Regions from separate parts of the Homo sapiens genome. Here regions 2, 3, 4 and 5 are each reported to be linked to region 1. The links are microRNA targets in miRTarBase. Many come from high-throughput screens and were not tested one by one. Region 1 holds a microRNA gene; each other region holds the end of a gene's coding sequence.
What was found. Region 1 holds the annotated microRNA hsa-miR-2116-5p (GGUUCUUAGCAUAGGAGGUCU, at 2,361-2,381, shown strand). A microRNA usually pairs through its seed, bases 2 to 8, with sites in the 3' UTR of a target mRNA and lowers its output. Matches are read on the target gene's strand: a 7mer-m8 pairs with bases 2 to 8, a 7mer-A1 pairs with bases 2 to 7 and ends in A, and an 8mer does both.

Region 1 (4,121 bases):
AAGATAAACAGGCACCTATGCCCAGAAACATTCACTGTTAACATTCTGTGTATATCCATATCTTTCAGAATGTTTTTATGAAAACATACATTTGCGTATTTAGTTTTACAAAAAATGAGATATACATTACATGCTGTTTTATGTCCTGAAGTGGTTTTTTGTTTGTCTTTTAAATAATGCGAGAATTTTCGATAGTAATACAGTTAGCAATATAAGTTATTTTACATGGCTGCATAGTATTCCATTTGACAGATGCTTTATTATTTTTAACCAGTTTCTCATGAATCAATTTTTAGTGAGTTTTTCTTTTTTACTATCGTAACTTCAGTGAGCATCTTTTCACACATCTTTGTGTATCTATCTGTCTCCTAATATTTTTAGAAGAAATTGATAGGAGTGAAATCGTTGAATCAAAGGATTCAGAGTATCAAGTAATATTGCAGAGTATCCTCATCCATTTTCCCAGAGTGGCTGATAAGTAAGGCTTTTCCAGCCACAGGAGGAACAGTTGATTTTTCACCTCCTCCTTTAGATACCTTTTGATAAAGTCTTGGTCCTAATAGAAAAATCTGAAGCTTCAGAAGCTCATGGACCCGTTAAGAGCTTTTGGCTTTTTGCCAGGGGCGGGGAGGTCAAGAAAAAAATTTAACGAAATAAACAACGGAAGCATGTTTTGCTAAAACCAAACCATTCCTTGCAACCTGTGCATGGCACCAGCTGCTGTGACGGCAGCCCTGGATGCACACAGGGGTGCTTAGCTCTCGCAGCGGTACTCATTATAAAGTGGTTACCCACAAATTCCCAAGTAGATTTCTATTAGATTATTGAGAATTATCATTCAAATGACAATATATCAGTATTTTAGAATGAAAATTTTATGAACTCCCAAGAAAATATATGCAGACACTGCCCCCTGTTTAGAAACATGCTGTAGTGCATCCTTGCTAAGTTCACCACAGGTGTTGGTGACTTTCCCTTTACACCTGCTGTCCTGATATGTGAAGTGACTCCATATGAGTTTGCCAGTTTTTAAGTCAAAAAGAGTCAAATGTCATCATTTTTTACATGTCATCCTAATAATCATGAACAATGCCCTCTTTCACTGTCATGGGGCCCGGTCATGTGATGAATGGAATGGCCTCTCAACAGTAGTGAAGATTGACTGTCCAAGGCAGCTTCCCCCTGTCCTGGTAACAGCAGTCCACTGTGTGAATTGTTGTCATCACATTGACCATGTCTGTCCACCTTTTTTTGAGACGGAGTCTTGCTCTGTCACCCAGGCTGGAGTGCAATGGCGCAATCTCGGCTCACTGCAACCTCCACCTCCCAGGTTAAAGCGATTCTCCTGCCTCAGCCTCCCAAGTAGCTGGGATTGCAGGCGCCCACCACCACACCCAGCTAATTTTTGTATTTTCAGTAGAGACGGGGTTTCACCATGTTGGTCAGGCTGGTCTCGAACTCCTGACCTCAGGTGATTCACCCGCCTCGGCCTCCGAAAGTACTGGGATTACAGGTGTGAGCCACCATGCCTGGCCTGTCCAGCTTCTTAAAGCTCCTCTCCTTACAGGGTGTAAAGCGAGACCTGCTCCTTACCCCAAAGTGCTTGTACTTAATCGGACGAGAAAAAGTCAAACAGGGCCCAGACAAGGGCCTGGTGAAAGAAGTCCTGAAGCGGAAAATCGAGATAGAACGGATCTTGTCTGTGTCCCTCAGGTGAGTAGTGGAGGTGCAGAGGCAGGACTGCCCCTTCTCGCCTCAGCATCACGGTCCGCTGTTCCAAACAGCCAGGAGGAAGGCCGGGCTGGGCTTCCCAGCTGTCAAAATCATGATCAAGAGAATGGAATTTCCCTTTGTCCCAAAGGGAAGACTCCCTAGTCTCAGCAAGTCTTGATATGTCAGGAAGAAGGTACCAAGAAAAGGTTGCCTCCGGACAGCTCCTCTAATCAAGGGGGACCCAGATCTCTTGTAACCGAAACGTGTTAGAAATGAACCCGGTATATGGAACACCTCAGAGAATAATTTCTCTTGTTGCAGTAGAGCCAAGGATTCAGAGCCCTGTCCCCCAGTCCACCTCACCCAGGTTGGAGGCCTCACCCATTTCCCTGAGCAGAGGGTCCTGAAAGGGAAGTTTCTTTGGGACTTCCTTAGGGAGTGCAAGTTGGTCTCCATTCTCTGTAGCCCTGGAGTCATCGTGAGATGCTCTCTTCGCTCCAATTCTCAGGCAGTGGGGAGTGGTGTTTGCTTCCACAAGGCCTCAGGAAGGGCCCTTGCTCCTCCCGGCAGCACCTTGGCTTCCTCTCGGCAGAAGGGCTCCTCTGCCGGCCGTCAGCATCTCCTCCGTCAGTGGGACCTAGGCTAGGGGTTCTTAGCATAGGAGGTCTTCCCATGCTAAGAAGTCCTCCCATGCCAAGAACTCCCAGACTAGGAGTCCTCCCATGCTAAGTCCTCCCGAAGTCCTCCCATGGTAAGAACTCCTAGACTAAGTTCCGCTGACACAGGAAATCCTCGCAATCCATGAAGACTAAGAATGGAAGAAAGGCCTCCTTGAGCCCCATAGCTTCCTCCAAGAATCGTGTCCCTGGGCCTCTGAGGCTAACACTACTTTAATCAGGAAAAGCTTTGGGCCTTTGCATTAAAGATGTTCTGCTCTCACATGAACATGGAATTGGGACGCCTGTCAAACTCTTACTCCACACAGAAGGCAAAACTGGTGCGCTCAGGAAAAAGCAGGGGTTTTATGTGCTCAGGCGTCTGATGTACCAAGCTGGAAATCCTAGTTCCAGTCTGATAATCCAAAACAGATTTCTAGTTGCATCCATTCTTGCCTGTGTCTCTGTGGTTTCTGATTCTATCTGTTCCTAATTTCCCTGGATAAAGGACCAGGCAGTGCAGTGCAGTGAAGTATTTAAAACGTGCCAACTCAGGATGTGGTAAAGTTGCTAAGCAGATGAGTCCGCAGTGTCCATTTTGCAGCCCCACCTCAGGTAGGTTTCAAGGCTATTGTTTTTTTTGTTTTTTTTTTAAAGCTCTAGGCGCTGACTGATTTTCTGAAGGCCTTCCTAAACATTCAGCTCACTGGCTGGGTCCCAACCTGAGCGGGGCAGTGCCTGCTGGCCACACTCTTCCTGGCTAGCTGGGCCCTGAGGCTGCCGTGGAAACCCAACAGGAAGCTCCTGCTTTGTTTGTCATTGCATGGGGCCCTGCCATGCCTGGACTAAGCCAGGTTGGCCACAGCGTGCTTGGCAGGCACAGCAGGTGAAAGTCAGGGAACCACAGCTCTAGGGTGTGTGTAGTCGCTGTGCCGAGAGTGACTTGTTCTTTCTGTTATTGCCCAGGTATGTCTTCAGTCCCTCAGACCCCTGGTGGAGTGCTCATGACTGGGACCATAAATTATCCTAATTGAGCTACATTTGTGTGGTTGTTTTGTTTTGTTTTGTTTTGTTTTGTTTTAGACAGAGTCTCGCTCTGTCACCCAGGCTGGAGTGCAGTGGCGTGATCTCAGCTCACTGCAACTTCTGCCTCCCTGGTCCAAGTGGTTCTCCTGCCTCAGGCTCCCGAGTAGCTGGGATTACAGGCCTGAGCCACCACCCCTGGCTAATGTTTGTATTTTTAGTGAGAGACAAGGTTTCACCACGTTGGCCAGGCTCGTCTTGAACTCCCGACTTCAAGTGATCCACTCATCTCAGCCTCCCAAAGTGCTGGGATTAGAGGCGTGAGCCACCGTGCCTGGCCTTGAGCTACACTTGTATCAAGCACTTTGACACTTACTATCTTATTGATAAGTCCTTGAGGGGGTTGTCAAGCAGGGACTGTAGGGACTGTTCACACTCAAATTTCTTCCTTTTATTGTTTTTTGTTTGTTTATTGTCTTCTTTTACAGCCTCTGGGGATATAATCTGTCATGGGAGCACCAGCTTCTTTTTCTTCTTCCTGTTCAGTATTCATTATCTGGAAGGTTCCTTTCTTGCGGTCTTTCCTTTTTAAAGGCTGTAGTAAAATGAGGTACTTAGCCTAAAAGTTTTTCTGACTCTAAGGAAAAAAAAAGAAAGTGTGAGTCATTTGAACTTGTGATGTCTGTGTATTGCAGTCACTGAACCTCACACTTGCCAAGATGAATAATA
Region 2 (4,121 bases), not on the chromosome of region 1:
GCCAGAGGGGCAAAAACCGGGGTTGTGTCTTAACTGCAATACATTTAAATGTCACTGACTTGGGTCTGGGCTATGAAACCAAGGAGGAACTGATTTTTAGGTACTGCAGCGGCTCTTGCGATGCAGCTGAGACAACGTACGACAAAATATTGAAAAACTTATCCAGAAATAGAAGGCTGGTGAGTGACAAAGTAGGGCAGGCATGTTGCAGACCCATCGCCTTTGATGATGACCTGTCGTTTTTAGATGATAACCTGGTTTACCATATTCTAAGAAAGCATTCCGCTAAAAGGTGTGGATGTATCTGACTCCGGCTCCAGAGACTGCTGTGTATTGCATTCCTGCTACAGTGCAAAGAAAGGGACCAAGGTTCCCAGGAAATGTTTGCCCAGAATGGAAGATGAGGACCAAGGAGGCGGAGGAGGAGGAAGAAGAAGAGGAGGAGGAGGAGGAGGAGGAGGAGGAGGAGGAAGGCAGCCATCATGGGAGCCTGGTAGAGGGAGATCCAGCTACAGACAACTGGACAGGAGAGAGAGAAAACAGCCCTCTGGATTCTCCAGGATGGCAGCCGATGTCACTAGAAGCTCAGGGCTGATGTTCCTGGTTGGCTATTGCCACCATTTCAGCTGATACAGTCCACCATCACTGATTACCGGCGCGGTTGCGGTGGATGCACTTGAACCAAACCAGTGTATCTCCTGTGATTTGTTTTCATGTGTCCGAAGACACCAGGGAAACAGAGATCCTGGTGTTGTTCCTTGTTATTACGTTTTACTGCTGAAAGTAAGAGGTTTATTTTTCTGTCACTCAGTGGAGACATACCCTGGAAAGGAGAGGGGAAAAAAAAAGCAAAGATACAAGAGATAATCACCTTTGCATTTGAAAGTTGAGGCCCGAGGTTTACTACAACCAGCATTTTTGCCAACGGTTGGTGATTGATTTCCATCACGGTGTGTGGGGTGGGAAGAAGTTGGCTAGGAACCAAAAAGGCTGTGCTCATGATTAAACACAAACCTGAAGGTATTTCCTTTATGTCCTTGGAAACAGGAAACGAGTTGTGGTTTTCGCCAGCATTCTTGTAGGAGAGAATCGGGGAAGGCCCCGAACTGCCCCCGGGCAGGGAGAGCCCCTCAGGCCTGTTGGTTTACAGAGAGACAGATGTTACATAACCAGCTCCGTTGATGCGTGGTCACCAGTGACCAGAGAAGCTACTCGATGCAATGCATCTGTTTCAGATACAGAAATATAGAGAAGATATTTATTGAAATTTAAGTTATTGTTATTTATTACCGTTCACTAATGAATTTCTCTTTTTTCCCTTATTTATTAAAGTTTCTTTTCAAAGGTGCCAAAGTATATGTGCTCGCAAAATGCAAAGAAAGGTGACAAAAGGAAATTTGAATTGGGAACAAGGGTCCATGCTTTTCAAAGTATTAAAAAGTTTTTTGCCAGGCAAAAATCACTTACTTTACCTTTTTAAGAAAATTTGTCATTAATTTTCCCCAGATTTCAGCATTTTTCCCAATTTTTATTTGTGGAGCATCTCAGGCAAGCCCCCTTTCCTGGAGCAGCGTGCAGAGACCACTGGCACTTGACTTTATTTCTTCCTTGCTCCATTGCTGAACAGAAATGTCGTGGGCTCCACTTCCTGTTGTCTTTAAGCTCTTAGTCCCCTCCACGTATACCTATCTGTACTATGCATAACCATATGTAGAAAAGGTTCAGTTCCTTTTAGTAGGTAGTCCTGGATTTAATGCTGACCTAAAAGTAATGTCGACAATGCTGTCAGGTAGCTGCCGTTCTACCGACTCCCTCCATCCCTGCCCACCCACTGCCCTCCCGAGAATATGCTGGCTGCCCAGTGCAGCCCGGGAGACACAGGGGCCTTCCAGAGGTAGGGTCTACCAGGTCCTGTACAACCCCTGGGCTGTCACCGGGGGTCAACAGCTGCTGCTCCTATATACCCAAACACCTGACAGCTCCCTGGGGAGCAGATGGCTGAGAAGGGTGCTGAGGAAGCCATATTGGGACCAGCCACAGCCACACACATGGAGCCTCATACTTAGGAGCGTGCTGCCTTTAAATGAAGGTGGTCGGGGCCAGTGCAGCGGCTCACACCCATAATCCCAACACTTTGGAAAGCCAAGGTGGGAGGATCTCTTGAACCCAGGAGTTTGAGACCAGCTTGGGCAACATAGGGAGACCCTGTCTCTACAGAAACTTTAAAAATTAGGCAGGCATGATGGTGCACACCTGTGGTCCCAGCTACTCAAGAGGCTGAAGGAGGATCACTTGAGTCCAGAAGGTCGAGGCTGCAGTGAGCTGTGATCATGCCACTGCACTCCAGCCTAAGTGACAGTGCGGTACCCTGTCTCAAAAAAAAAAAAAAAAAAAAAAAGAGGTTGGAGCAGGAGGAAGCATAGGGGCGGGAACAGCCACCTCCTCCATGCCCTAGATTGTGAATTTATCGGGCAGCCAACACATGTATGACACACTAGGCCCTGTATTACAGCTTGTTACGCATTTCATAAAAGGGATTTTCATTAAGGAGATAATCTATTACTACCTACCTTAGTGGCTACTAGTATAAAACTATGACAGATTTAGCAATTAAATGAAATACTGGCCTCCATCAAATAATCATAGTAACAAGAAGCAGCAGTTACCAGACATCTGATCCCCTTCCCCCAAAATACCCAAATTCTTCATGGTTCTGCCCTTCTCTGTCCTTTCTGCTCCCCTTGCTCGCCTGGGAAATGGAGGAAAGGCCTTCCCTCTCACACTGTCTTGGGATCTTGCTGAGAATTCAGACTGCTCGAAACAGTGACAAACCCCAGCCATCCAGTCATTCGTGGAGCACAATTTGGATGTGGCCCCAGGGGCATCTGTCCCATTCAGAGAACCTTGGCAGTGCGATGGCCACTGTTCCCAGGCTTCAACCTCAGTGACCCCCCCCAACAACTCCCCATGGAGAGTCCCTGCCCAAAAAAGCTGTAGGATCCAAGGGGTGTCAATAGCTCGTTCCCGGCATCACCTACACACCACAAGCAGGTTTTAATGGAAGCAAGTTGCTCCACCAAATCCACAAAAGGGTAAAGTTTGTGATTTTTCTTTATCATTGCGATCACCATCTGATACCGTAAGGAGTGCACTTGTTTGGAAGTTCTGACTTCTCTGATCTGTCTTGGTCGTTTGTGTTATAAAACCAAAGTTCTCTACAGACTTTATTTTTGTACAATATCATTTTGTAACTTTTTACAAATAAAAACTCATTTCTATTGCTCTCTGTACTTCTGTACTTCCTTGCATGCACTGGGCCAGGCAGCCATCCACAAGTATTTCTTAGGAATCACCCCCTTCTTACCACACAGCCCACTGGATGGTCAGTGGCCTTGCCTATCAACTCCCAGCAACCAATCACCCACTCAGGAGGGACAAAACTTGCAAAATTGTTCTTATTCATTCAACAAACCCTTATGGTGTGCCTACACTGTGCCAGGCACTGTTCCTGGCACCAGGGCTCTAATGGTGACCAAAGCAAAAACCGCTGTCCTCCTGGAGTTATTTTATTTGCGGGGAGACAGACAACATTCAAAAAAGTAAAATATGTAGTGATCCCTGTGTTGAGAAACGCTAAAAGAATACAAACAGGATCCTATAATATAGACACTAACAGGGGAGCTTGCTTTAATTAGAAATGACTTTAAGACCGAAGTTAAGAAACAGTGCCAACAGATCAGGAGCGTCCCAGGCAGAAGAAGCAGCTTGTATGAAACTGAGTCACGTCACAGACTGCCTTGTGACTATCAAAAGGCGGCCTTGCATGGTGCTCTATGGCTCTTCTGCATGGCCCCAGCCTAGGCTGCCCCATGGATGGCATTTGTGCTGCACTAGCCTTTGCCTGAAATGCCCCCTCTTCCCGATGCACGCCGTCCCTGCGTGGAGACTTGGTGGAGTCACGGGTACCAACCTGTGGGTTCAGGCATTCAGAGTCCTTCTGCCAGGACTGGCTGGAAGAGGCTCCAGGGTGGTGCTGAGGCCAGCTGCGTTTTCTCCAAGCCAAAATTCCAGTCCAAAGTCAGTGACTTGGAGCGGGAACATAAGATGGTAAAACTCCTGCT
Region 3 (4,121 bases), not on the chromosome of region 1:
AAAATATTAATTGTTAACCAGTCTGAAACATTAACAATTGATGTTATTATACCATTATCCTCATTTTATTGTAGAAAACCTTATTGCAATTTTATGGCCCTTTGATTAATGCAGTATTTCTTTTTTAATGCAGGCAAATGGTTTAACTATGGAATTATCTTCCTCGTCTTGATTTTGGATCTTAATATGTGGAAGAACCAAATATTTTATAAACCTCATGAATATGGGCAATATATCGGCCCGGGGCAGAAGATATATACAGTGAAAGACTCAGAAAGTTTAAAAGATTTGAACAGAACCAAGCTATCCTGGGAATGGAGGTCCAATCACACTAACCCTCGGACTAATAAAACATATGTTGAGGGAGACATGTTCTTACACAGCAGGTTCATAGGAGCCAGTCTTGATGTCAAGTGTCTGGCCTTTGTTCCAAGCCTGATAGCCTTTGTGTGGTTTGGATTCTTTATTTGGTTCTTTGGACGATTTTTGAAAAATGAGCCACGCATGGAGAATCAAGACAAAACTTACACTCGCATGAAAAGAAAATCTCCATCAGAACATAGCAAAGACATGGGAATCACTCGAGAAAACACCCAGGCTTCAGTAGAAGACCCCTTGAATGACCCTTCTTTGGTTTGCATCAGGTCTGACTTCAATGAGATCGTCTACAAGTCTTCCCACCTAACCTCGGAAAACTTGAGCTCACAGTTGAACGAATCTACTAGTGCAACAGAAGCTGATCAAGACCCAACGACTTCTAAAAGTACACCTACGAACTAGACTCGGAGATAGACTTGGAGATAACACAAAAAGCAACCTTGAGTGTAACTTTAAAAATTTAGTCTTTCCTTTTGTATATGTAAGGTTTACGTAGTGTTAGGTAAAAATATGAACAATGCCACAACGGTGCTCAACATGCTTTTTCTAGGATTCATTGTTTTCTATTTGTATTATAATACACGTGCCTACTGTATACTCAACAGTCCTCTAGAGATTGCTTTTCACAATTGCACAAGCTATTACTGACTTTACAGCATAGTGGAAGATTAGCTGATGACCCATGTATCTGATGTTCAACCATAGTGGTGCCTTGAGACATTAAACTGTTTTTAACTGTACCAGAAATGAAGTGTGGAACAGTTACCTAACCTATTTCACATGGGCGTTTTGTATACAACTATTTTGATCTACACTTGATGTCTGAGCAGAAAACAGAAATAGCTAAATGTGACTCAGGAAGTATCTCTTGGTTTCTTATTCAGCAGCAGAGTTGGTGACTTTGACAACTGGACTGCAGAGAAACATGGTGATCACCTTTTAATTTTTATTGGCTGTCTGCCAAATATAAATACAGATGCAAAATTCAGTAATAGGAGATCCATAACCCAACATGGGTCACTACTCGTGAAATGTGACTTTCTCCCACCAGTAATTGAAATGAGGTGATGATACCTAATTATGTTTTCCTAATTAAAGATAAATTGCTACTTGATTAAAAATCCTGCCCTTCACCTTTGGGAACAAAGGTTAAGAGACACAGTTGGGCGAACTCTCAAATTTATTGGCATTTACACAAAGTCCCAGACAACCAAGGAACTGAAGTTTTCATCATATGAGAGCAGCACATCCCACCATTTACAATATTCGTATATCTTTCTGCAAATATGGCTCTGGATAGTGAAAATTGAAAAACATATGCCAACCCTGAGCAAGGGAACTCCTCAAAAAATCATGCAGCGGAACCTTGTCAGGTAGAGAAGCCGTGCATGAAAGAATTTGTTTAATGTCTTGTTTTGCGTATGTGTTTTTTGTTTTTGTTTTTTAAGAACTAAATATTGCACATTAATAAATAAGAATTATACAGCAGTGATTATGTGATGTAGTTTTTTGTTTAATTGTATCTTGGCTTAAGAAAAGTCCATTTACATGGGGTTTTTATAGCTTGATGCCAGGCAAGTTAAGAGAAGGCACACTGCCAACTTGCTTTCAATTTTGTTCCATAAATTGTGGTTACGTTTCTTGAGGGGGTGAGGGAGATCACTTTTAAGGAAAAATTATTTTCCTGTCACACACTGACATAGCTGCATTTTTTCTTTATGATTTTTTAAATCTCTCTTGTTTTGATCTATCTACTTTTAAGCTTGCAGCATACTGAATTTAGCATGCATAATAGAACTATGCATTTATCTGTCACTTGAGAGCCAGCTTTAATAAACATCTTTACTAAGCATTTGGAACCATGCCCCTGCTGTTACTTTTACCTTTAATAGCCATGCATGGTGCTACTTAGAATCATAAACATATCTGACACACACACACACACACACACACACACACACAAATGCAGAGATCAAGCTCACTATAGTAACCCATTGCCCATACTATCTAAAGGAACTTACCATGTATGTCTGATAGGTGGCAACACTAGCTATTACTAAATTTTGGCAGCCTAGAACATTCAACTTTTAGCTCTGGGACATGTAAATAATAACACCTAGTACCACATTTTTATTTATTCTGAAAGTCATTGTCTTATAGAATGACGAAAGAAGTTGATTTAGAAAGTAGACGTTTATTATCAATATGCATGACTTATAAAAATATTATTTGAGAATTTTTACATGGGTATTAATGGAAAATGTTTTAATGAGAAAATCTAATTAGCAGAAGTAAGACAGAAAAAAAATAACAAACTTAGAACAACATGTTTATGTGTTTCTAGGGATTAGCTAGAAAAACTATTAAAAAAATGAAAATATATATTTAAATTTTCATAAATTTAGTAACAAATGGAACAATTTCCAAGGACATTTTAATAGTCAAACAAGACTTCAGCCTTCTAAGGCTTCCAACTGTTGAATTGTATATACTGATAGTGACCTTTTCTTACCTACATATGGATCTACTTTCTTCTTTTGCTGCCTCTTTTGGGTATTGCATTTATACCAAGTAAAGATACTAAAATGAAATAAACTAAAAATTAAATCCATTCACATTCAGTCTTGAATCCTGAGTCATACCAATAGACTGAGACTCTACAGAGATTTTTGAATACCAAAACTTTTAAACTATTAAGGACATTTTAAAAAGAGATGTGTAGCAATCTCAGAAATTGAGGTTAAAAAAAAGGATTTAAAAAATTACTAAGCACAGATTCTAAAGAAAGCTTAACAAATGTGATGTCTTAATTGCAGTGATGCTTAAGTACTATAAACAATTATATTTCTACTGTTCAGTAATTACAGTACTTTCTTCCACATAGTGCAGAATTTGAACTAATTTGACATAATTTTAGTATCCTACATTTATAAAGTACTTCATTAGTAGTTGAAATGGAAAATTAAATAAACACTATGAATTTGTGCCTGATAATATACACTTAGACATAAATCTCATCACCACATGTCTATTTGTATTGTATAATCATAATTAGTTACCCTATTTTCTCCCCATGGTAGCTACTTATGTTACCTTATCTTTTAGCATAGCTGAGATCACCAGCAAATTCTGTTTAAAATGTTAAGAATTATTTCTTCTCCATCTGCCCTAAGAGTCAACCAGGTACAAATTTTTTTTATTTTTGTAGTATCAGATTTCACACAAGTAATGTCCAAAAACACTGCACCACTGGCTGACAGTACAGTGGAAAGAAGTCCAACACAGGCATTCAGATTTGAAGGAGGGAGTCAATACATGGTAGCTCACCACTGGGCTCCATAAGCAATTTTATCACATTATTTGGCTTCCCCATGGGTCACCAACACAGCCCAATATGAAATATGAGAAAGACAATGCTAATAAATCCTAAATGTCTCTATAACTGATAATTCAGGAGGCCAACTGGATTATCTGACATTCAGCTAAGACCTCAGTACCCTGCCATTGTTTCTCATCTGCCTTCACTCTGAACTAACCCTTATTTTAAATTTCAACTCATGCTTAGGCAGCTACAAGTAGGGTATTATGCTTATATTGGTTTTTCCCTCTGAGACTGACTTGGCTCACTACTCTATCTGGCCTGATTTCTTCGAGCTTTGTCCCTCAGAACCCAACTCTGACCTATTAGCCAGCCCGTACCCTTGAGACAGCAAGAGCAACTCAATTAATTCTGCAGCAGATAA
Region 4 (4,121 bases), not on the chromosome of region 1:
GATTGCTTGTGCTCAGGAGTATGAGACCAGCCTGGGCAACATTGCAAAATCCCATCTCTACCAAAAATACAAAAATTAGCCCAGTGTGGTGGCACGCGCCTGTAGTCCCAGCTACTCCAGAGGCTGAGGTGGGGGGATCACCTGAGCCTGGGAGGTTGAGGCTGCAGTGAGTCGTGATTGCACCACTGCATTCTGGCCTGAGCAACAGAGCAAGACCCTGTCTCAAATAAAATAAAAAATAAAAAATAAAAAAAAAGGCTTTGCCCAGTGGGCAGGGTCAGACAGACAGCATCTGCCTCTGCTATACCCCAAAATAAAACTCAGGCTGGCCAGGCGTGATGGTGCATGCTTGTAGTCCCAGCTACTCAGGAGGCTGAGGCAAGAGGATCCCTTGAGTTCAAGGTCAGCCTGGGCAACATAGCAAGACCCCATCTCTTTGTTTGTTTTGTTTTAAAAAAGGTCCTAAGAGAAAAATCAGTCCCCTTTACCACAGCCCCTAAAAGCCAAGTTTGTTCTGGCTTCTATCCCAGCGAGGATGCCGTTCCTGCCAGTGACACCCTGGCTGCTTGGCCTGCTTCCAGTCAGAATGTGCCGTGCTCTTGCCCCAGAGCCTCCATGCTGGCTGATTCTCTGGCCGGAGTGCTCTTCCTCAGCTTGGCATAGGCGCCTTCTCATTCTTCAGGTCTCAGCTGAGACCTCCCAAGCCATCAAGGTAAGAACTGCTTCCTCTGAGGCCCTTCTCACATGTGTGATCACTGCTTCCTTTCTCCCTCAGCTGGGTGCCCGTGGGCTGTACCTGGACCAAGGGAAGGGACTGGATCTGTCTTGCTCCCTGTGGTAGCTCTGGACACAGAACACAGCCTGGCACATGGCAATGTTTACTGGGCTCTGTTCTCCAGCTCCCATCTGAGTCTGCAGGCCAGCCCCAAACCAGCCCGGGAACCCCTTACTTAGCTGTGCCAGCCGTTTCTCCAAAAAGCTGTTTCCCGACTTCCTTCCTTCCAGCCACTGGCTGTCCTTTGTTCCCAGTGACCAGGACACCCAGCAGCCTTTGTACTTCCACCCTCAGGCCCTACTACCCCTGCTCCACACCACTGTCCACCAGCCCCGCACCCAGTCTGTCTTCCAGGCCCGCACAGGTCTGGTGATAGGTGGCAAGTGTCCCTGCTCTCATCCCACACGCTGCTGGGGCTCTCTTTCCTCTCCAGTCTGAGCGGCTGAGGTCCCAGCACACCTAAGTAGGAACACTAGGAGCCGCCCAAGAGCAACAGGAAACCACCATCACCCCTTCCCCTCCGAGTGGGATAAGAAACTAAAAAGTGGAGGATCCCAAAGGTATATGCCTATGGGAGCCAGGCAGGTATCAGAGAAGCACAGTCGCCAGGTGGACTGGCGCAAGTGTCCTGTATGTGGACACCTGTGCGGGGAGGGGCTGACAAGCTGGAGCTTGCAGGCTCCATCCAAAGGGACGAGCTGCTATTCAGTGTCAGCTGACTGCTGCCGTTCAGGAATCAGGCCCGCCGTGGACAGCTCTAGTTTTCTCTTTCAGGAGAATCCAGAATCCAAAACCAAGATTTTTATATAAAATCTGTCTTCAAATGTTGGCAACTTACTCAATTTTTAAAAAAACACTACAGATCACAAGTTTGCAACCTCTGGGAAGGAGAAGCCTCCTTCCCATCTTAGAGGCATCCCTGTAACTGCCCACATCATCCTCTTACCTATAGGATCCCATTCAGAACGGCATAGAGTTCTAGAATCTTCTTTCCCTTTTTCCCAATCAAAATCCCAATTTCTTCACTGTAGTAAGGTCCAGCTAGTTGGGAAGCAATCTGATTAAAATAAAACAACTTCCAGACCCCCAATTCAATAAATACTATGAGGATTACCATATTTCACAAGTTAACTAAACTTATTATGTTTCAATTAATATTAGGTTGGTGCAAAAGTAATTGCAGTTTTTGCCATTCTAGAACTAGAGGCAATGGGCCAAGGCACATAACCGTAGGTCAATCAGGAAAGATGCCAAGTGCTAAGCTGCGTCAGCATTCAACTCCTTTAATCCTATGAGGTAGGTAGTTATCATCTCTCTTTTACAGAAACACAAAAGGAGGTTTACGGAGGTTAAACTACTTGCCCAAGGTCCCTCACCCTAGTAAGTGGCAACACTAGGTTTGCCTGGAACCAAAGTCTACGCAGTCAACCATGCTATGCAGTATTACTTCTCTCTGTGCTATTATATAACCTCATGTAATGGGCACAACTTCAGAGGGGGCATTCTTGAGATGTGGCCTTCTAGACTAAAGTCACTCAAGTGGTCAGTGCTATGGTTTGAATTTGTGTCCCTTGAAAATTCATGTTGCAACAAATCTCCATGCAAGTCTTTTTTTTTTTTTTTTTTTTTGGAGATGGAGTCTGGCTCTGTGGCCCAGGCTGGAGTGCAATGGCTCACCGCAACCTCCGCCTCCCAAGTTCAAGCTGTTCTCCTGCCTCAGCCTCCCAAGTAGCTGGGATTACAGGCATGCACCACCATGCCCACCCCTTGGCTAATTTTGGTTTTTTAGTAGAGACAGGGTTTCACCATGTTGGCCAGGCTGGTCTCAAAACTCCTGACTTCAAGTGATCCCCCTGCCTCGGCCTTCCAAAGTGCTGGGATTACGGACGTGAGCCTCCATGCCTGGCCCCAAGACAAGAGCCTTGAGCAGAGGTCCTAGCTGCAGTCCACCTGCACATTCCTGTTGTTTAGCTGTGTTCTTGCCAAGTCACACTCAGTATCTAACCTAACACAGAAAGATTCTCAAAAATGGGACTCAGCTCACAGAAAATGTTAAAGGGGATAAAAACCTATCCCCTTGGACCCCTAGAGGTCCAAATGGGGCCTTCAGATACCAACAGGGCTCCTATGCAGACAGCTGGTGCTCACTGCTGGAGAAGAAAAAAGGAAGCTGGCCTTTCCAGGCAGTTCTCAGTTCTGTTAGGAGCAAGGGGCAAGAAGGACCAAGAAAGGCCTGGAGAAATATGCTGGCATCAACAGCATTTCCAACTAAGTCCTCATGTCATATACCCAAGGACCCCACCACCCAAAAGTATGAGAATAAGCTCTCAATCAGGCCTTTGTTCCTATTGTTACCCTCTTTATTCCAAAACAATTACACATTTCAACTTTTCAAAAGCAACATCTGGGTAAGTTAGGAATATTCACAGCTTCTTACACAGTGTCAGAGAAAGAGACTATCTGAGCTCACCAGGTATCTGCTGTGTGTTGGGGAAACTGAAAAACAAGCAAAAGTATAACTACAATCTGGACTTTTTTCTTTTTTAAATAAAGTTTTTTTTTTCCATTTTTCTTCTCATACTGTGAATTGTTCTTGACTCCTTTTCTTGACATTCAGTTTTCAGAATTTCCATCTTTCTTCTGGAACTAATGTGCTGTTCTGAAAGAAAATGGAGACAAACACAGAATTACTGAAGGTTTCAGTTCACAGTTACAGTTCCTAACTGGTGACAACAGAGAGACTAAGGTACTCTCCCGCTCTAAGATCCCATTTATAAGGGAATAATCATTTATCTCCCAAGTCTATTTATGTATGCCCCATCTCATTTTACAAAAGAATGTGAGACAGCTAGTTCATAATTAAGCTGATGACAACTTAAATACAAATAACAAAACAAACTCAATAATAACTAAGAAAGTGGTATGTGACAACATAAGGAGATGAGGTAATTCCAGGCACACCTCTCACAGTGCAAGGCCAAAAACACAGTGTAAATTTCAATTAGATGAACAAAGAGCAAAGTTTAAATAATGCTCATCATCAATCTCCCAGACTCCAGCTCTGCCAACCAACACTTGGCCCTTCTGTAGCTTAGAACATGACATCCTGACCATTCATTACAGAAACCTGCACATTCCTGCCGTGTGGCCGTGTTCTTGCCAAGTCACACTCAGCATCTAACCTAACACAGAAAGATTCTCAAAAATGGGACTCAGCTCACAGAAAGTGTTAAAGGGGATAAGAACCTATCTCCTGTACTCTTTGTTTCCCCTCCGCTGCCTTTCCCTAGACTCTAAGGAGGGATGGGGAAGCACAATGAATGAAAATGACAATCTAGACAGACTG
Region 5 (4,121 bases), not on the chromosome of region 1:
TTCAACCCCACATTTCCCTTCTGCACTGCCCTAGCAGAGGTTCTCCATGAGGGTCCCCATCCCTGCAACAAACTTCTGCCTGGGAATCCAGTTGTTTCCATACATCTTCTGAAATCTAGGCAGAGGTTCCCAAAGCCCAATTCTTGACTTCTGTGTACCTGCAGGCTCAACACCACATGGAAGCTGCCAAGGCTTGGGGCTTGCATGCTCCGAAGCCATGGCCTGAGCTCTACGTTGGCTCCTTTCAGCCATGGCTGGAGTGGCTGGGATACAGGGCACCAAGTCCCTAGGCTGCACACAGCACAGGAATCCTGGGTCCAGCCCACAAAACCACTTTTTCCTCCTAGGCCTCTGGGCCTGTGATGGGAGGGGCTGCTGTGAAGACCTCTAACCTGCCCTGGAGACATTTTCCCCGTTGTCTTGGGGATTAACATTTGGCTCTTCATTACTTAAGCAAATTTCTGCAGCCAGGTTAAATTTCTTCTCAGAAAATGGGATTTTCTTTTCTATGGCATTGTCAGACTGCAAATTTTCTGAACTTTCAAGCTCTGCTTCCCTTATAAAACTGAATGCCTTTAATGGCATCCAAGTAACCTCTTGAATGCTTTGCTGCTTAAAAATTTCTTCCACCAAATACCCTAAATTATCTCTCTCAAGTTCAAAGTTCCACAAATCTCTAGGACAGGGGCAAAATGCCACTAGTCTCTTTGCTAAAACATATCAAGAGTGACCTTTGCTCTAGTTCCCAACAAGTTCCTCATCTCCATCTGAGACCACCTCAGCCTGGATTTCATTGTTCATATCATTATCAGCATTTTGGTCAAAGCCATTCAACAAGCCTCTAGGGAGTTCCAAACTGTCCCATATTTTCCTGTCTTCTTCTGAGCCCTCCAAACATTCCAAGCTCTGCCTTGTACTCAGTTCCAAAGTCACTTCCACGTTTTTGGGTATCTTTTCAGCAGTACCCCACTCTACTGGTACAAATTAACTGTATTAGTCCATTTTCATGCTGCTGATAAAGACATACCAGAGACTGGGCAATTTGCAAGAAACAGGTTTAATTGGACTTACAGTTCCACATGGCTGAGGAAGCCTCACAATCATGGCAGAAGGCAAGAGGAGCAAGACACATCTTATGTGGAGGGCAGCAGGCAGAGAGCTTGTGCAGGGCAACTCCCTGCACTGATGGTTTTTAAAACCATCAGATCTCGTAAGACTCATTCACTATCATAAGAACAGCACCGGAAAGACCCACCCCCATAATTCAGTCACCACCCATGACACGTGGGAATTGTGGGAATTACAATTCAAGTGAGATTTGGTTGGGGACACAGCCAAACCAGATCAGGATCTCAACATGTTGCCCAGGCTTAACTTAAAGTGCAGGAAACAATCAGAAGTATCAAGTGACTCGATTCTCTAAAATGAAAGATACTTGGACAGATGATTTTTCTTATGTATATGGATTTTTAAGACTTTTCCCCACTAGGTTTCCACTAGCTCAACCAAACTTCACCTCAGTACCCACATGGACACTTGTGCAAACACGTTCCCAGGACATCTCTAAAGGGGAAAATAATCTATTCTCTAATGTGATGATGAATGTAGAGTGATATGACAGTCCGTTTTCCAACCAGGAGATACAAATGGCTGAGTCAGACTTGCTCCAAAATATTTAGCCTCTTCCCTAAGTCCTGTCTTCCTCCTCATACAACATACTCTGCACATCTCCCAGGAAAGAGAGAAAAAAGTTTGCTTTCATGCTAACTTAAGAACCTTGCAATATTTCAGTAACTTCTGAGATATTTGCTCCACCAACACATGCATCCAAATTTTAGATTTCTCCAGAGCTTGGGAATCACAACTTCACAAATATAACTTGATTTGGTTGTGTTTGGTGTCATGTACATACTATGGTCTTGCTTTGTCACTTGATGCCACTCCTTAGTATATGATACCACAGATTTCCAAATTCATTACAAAGACTACAATCTTAAAAAAACATATTCTTGCTTTAGCAATTACTTCAATTTTGGGATTCATATATTTGCAAACCTGGAGGATGGGCAGCTATAGAATTGGTTTTTCTAAACTCGATGATATACTGGAAGCCATCATGCTGTTATGGACCTTCATTCCACAAAGCACCATGGCTGATGCAATCACTCTTAATGACTTTTATGAATTTTAATCTACTTGATACACATGCCTAGGTAAACAAATCTCGCGTAATTGTTCAAATTTTATCTTCCACAATGGGGAAAAACAGATTTAAAAAAAAATACTTAGATTATGTCTTTTTCTTTCTAAATTATTTTTTGTAAAGATGAGGTCTTATCATGTTGTCTAGGCTGGTCTCCAACTCTTGGCCTCAAGCTATCCTCCCACCTTGGCCTCCCAAAGTGCTGGGATTACAAGCATAAGCCACCATGCTTGGCTGTCTTGTTCTTATACACTGAATGTGCACTGTTCTGTAATTCTTATCTCTTAAGGGCTTCAGATTCATGGAAAGATTGATGCAGAGTGTAACCTTTTTATTGTTCAAAATGCTACAAATAACTGCATTTTGGAACTCAACGATCACACCTTCCCAACTACTTCTTGTTCATTTTATTATTACTATACGCAAAGCATTAAAATAGAAGCTGGGTAGAGAAAACATGTAGAAGTAGGGTTACCAGATAAAAGATGTTCAGTTAAATTTGAATTTCAGATAAACACATTTTTTGTATATGTCCTGAATATTAAATATACTAAAACATTATTTATCTGAAATTCAAATTTAACTGAATGTCCTGTAAACTTACAATTTAATAAAGAAATTAATGAATAACCATAAAGCACAGATGACAAGTACAGTCATCCAATCAGGAGAGGAAAAGATCTCTACTAACGGATCTCCAGGTACAACAGAAAAAAGTACCTGGAAGAGATGACAATTGATGTCATTCCTGAAAGATGACTAAATTTTGACTGGTGGACAGGTGGTTTAATGTGATGATTTTGAGGTTCAAGTGTCCCAAGTTAAATTCCAAATGAACCACTCACTAGCTGTGTAACATCAGACAAGCTACTCAAGCACTCTTTATTATAAAATGAGAATACTAATAATACCTTGCGCTAGGTTGTTTAAGGATCAGAGAAAATATATGCACAAAGCACCTGGAACACAGGAGGCACTCTTTAAATGGTAATACTTCTTATTACAACTTAAAATGTCACACGACAAATAGGGTACTTGTCACAGACAAACATTCAAATGTTAATGTTATACAGTAATAGTAATATTGAATAAGTAATTTTATTTCCATGATCTATTTACACTGTACAAAGACTGTTGAAAAGCACCCTACAAGTTCACAGTACATTACAATATATTTACTTTAAAAATATATTCCTTTATAAAAGGTTTATAAGAACATTGGCATGTCAACATGTGACAAAACTCTCAAAGCATGTCACCAATTCTGTGAGAGCAAGAATGCATCCAAGTGTTATCAATTTCACAATCACAAGTCACCAGTTGAGTTTTAAATACATACATGTTTTAAATAAAAAAAGAATTCTATAGTGGAAAGTTCTTGAGGCAATACTTATTAGTTCATTAACGTATGCATTTTCATGGAGATGTGGCATAATAACCCACAATATCAACTTAATCTGTCCAAAGAAACATTTCAACAAGTTTAGCAGTACAGAAATTCTGGTCATTTGTTTCTACTTTTTCTTCTTTGCTGGTTCTCCTGGCTCTACTTTGCGCTTTTTAGAAGTATGCTCATCTTTTTCATCATCTTTAAATAGAAAAGGAAGAGTTTCAATCAGTAATTTTAAAAAACCCAACATGTTAAGCATTAAAATTTCACTGGCTTTATACCAAAATTATTACCCTCATCAATTAATGTTTCTCTCAGAGTTTCCCAATAAAAAACAAGAATTAACTTTTAGAGCTCTGATTTTTAAATGCAAGTGAAAGTGAGCAATTTTTTTTTTCAATTGCAGCCATACAAAATTCACAAAGTAACTCTTTAGGTGCTATACTAAGGTAGCTTAAAATAAGTGACTTTACTTCCCCCAAATCAGACTTTTGAAAAAGGCTCCCAAATACTCAGCAAGCTTGTCCA

Region 2: the mRNA of GDNF is a reported target of hsa-miR-2116-5p. The part of its 3' UTR that is shown has no 7-base or 8-base seed match.
Region 3: the mRNA of TMEM117 is a reported target of hsa-miR-2116-5p. Seed matches in the 3' UTR shown: 7mer-m8 at 1,823-1,829.
Region 4: the mRNA of RPN2 is a reported target of hsa-miR-2116-5p. Seed matches in the 3' UTR shown: 7mer-A1 at 3,364-3,370.
Region 5: the mRNA of C1orf52 is a reported target of hsa-miR-2116-5p. Seed matches in the 3' UTR shown: 8mer at 2,444-2,451.

The regions. Positions count from the first base shown.
Region 1 is chr15:59,169,489-59,173,609 of GRCh38, reverse strand. MIR2116 (microRNA 2116) reads left to right here and starts at 2,348; the gene lies at 2,348-2,427. MYO1E (myosin IE) reads left to right here. Exons shown (of 28, transcript NM_004998.4): 22 at 1,568-1,713.
Region 2 is chr5:37,811,838-37,815,958 of GRCh38, reverse strand. It overlaps GDNF (glial cell derived neurotrophic factor), which reads left to right. Exons shown (of 3, transcript NM_000514.4): 3 at 1-3,282. The coding sequence ends at 308. Among named protein-coding and RNA genes, the nearest start is that of GDNF-AS1, 26 kb to the left of the region's middle.
Region 3 is chr12:44,387,893-44,392,013 of GRCh38, forward strand. TMEM117 (transmembrane protein 117) reads left to right here. Exons shown (of 8, transcript NM_032256.3): 8 at 134-1,866. The coding sequence ends at 780. Among named protein-coding and RNA genes, the nearest start is that of NELL2, 490 kb to the right of the region's middle.
Region 4 is chr20:37,240,616-37,244,736 of GRCh38, reverse strand. RPN2 (ribophorin II) reads right to left here. Exons shown (of 17, transcript NM_002951.5): 17 at 3,118-3,434. The coding sequence ends at 3,422. Among named protein-coding and RNA genes, the nearest start is that of GHRH, 19 kb to the left of the region's middle.
Region 5 is chr1:85,248,912-85,253,032 of GRCh38, forward strand. It overlaps C1orf52 (chromosome 1 open reading frame 52), which reads right to left. Exons shown (of 3, transcript NM_198077.4): 3 at 1,042-3,791. The coding sequence ends at 3,718. Among named protein-coding and RNA genes, the nearest start is that of C1orf52, 8.7 kb to the right of the region's middle.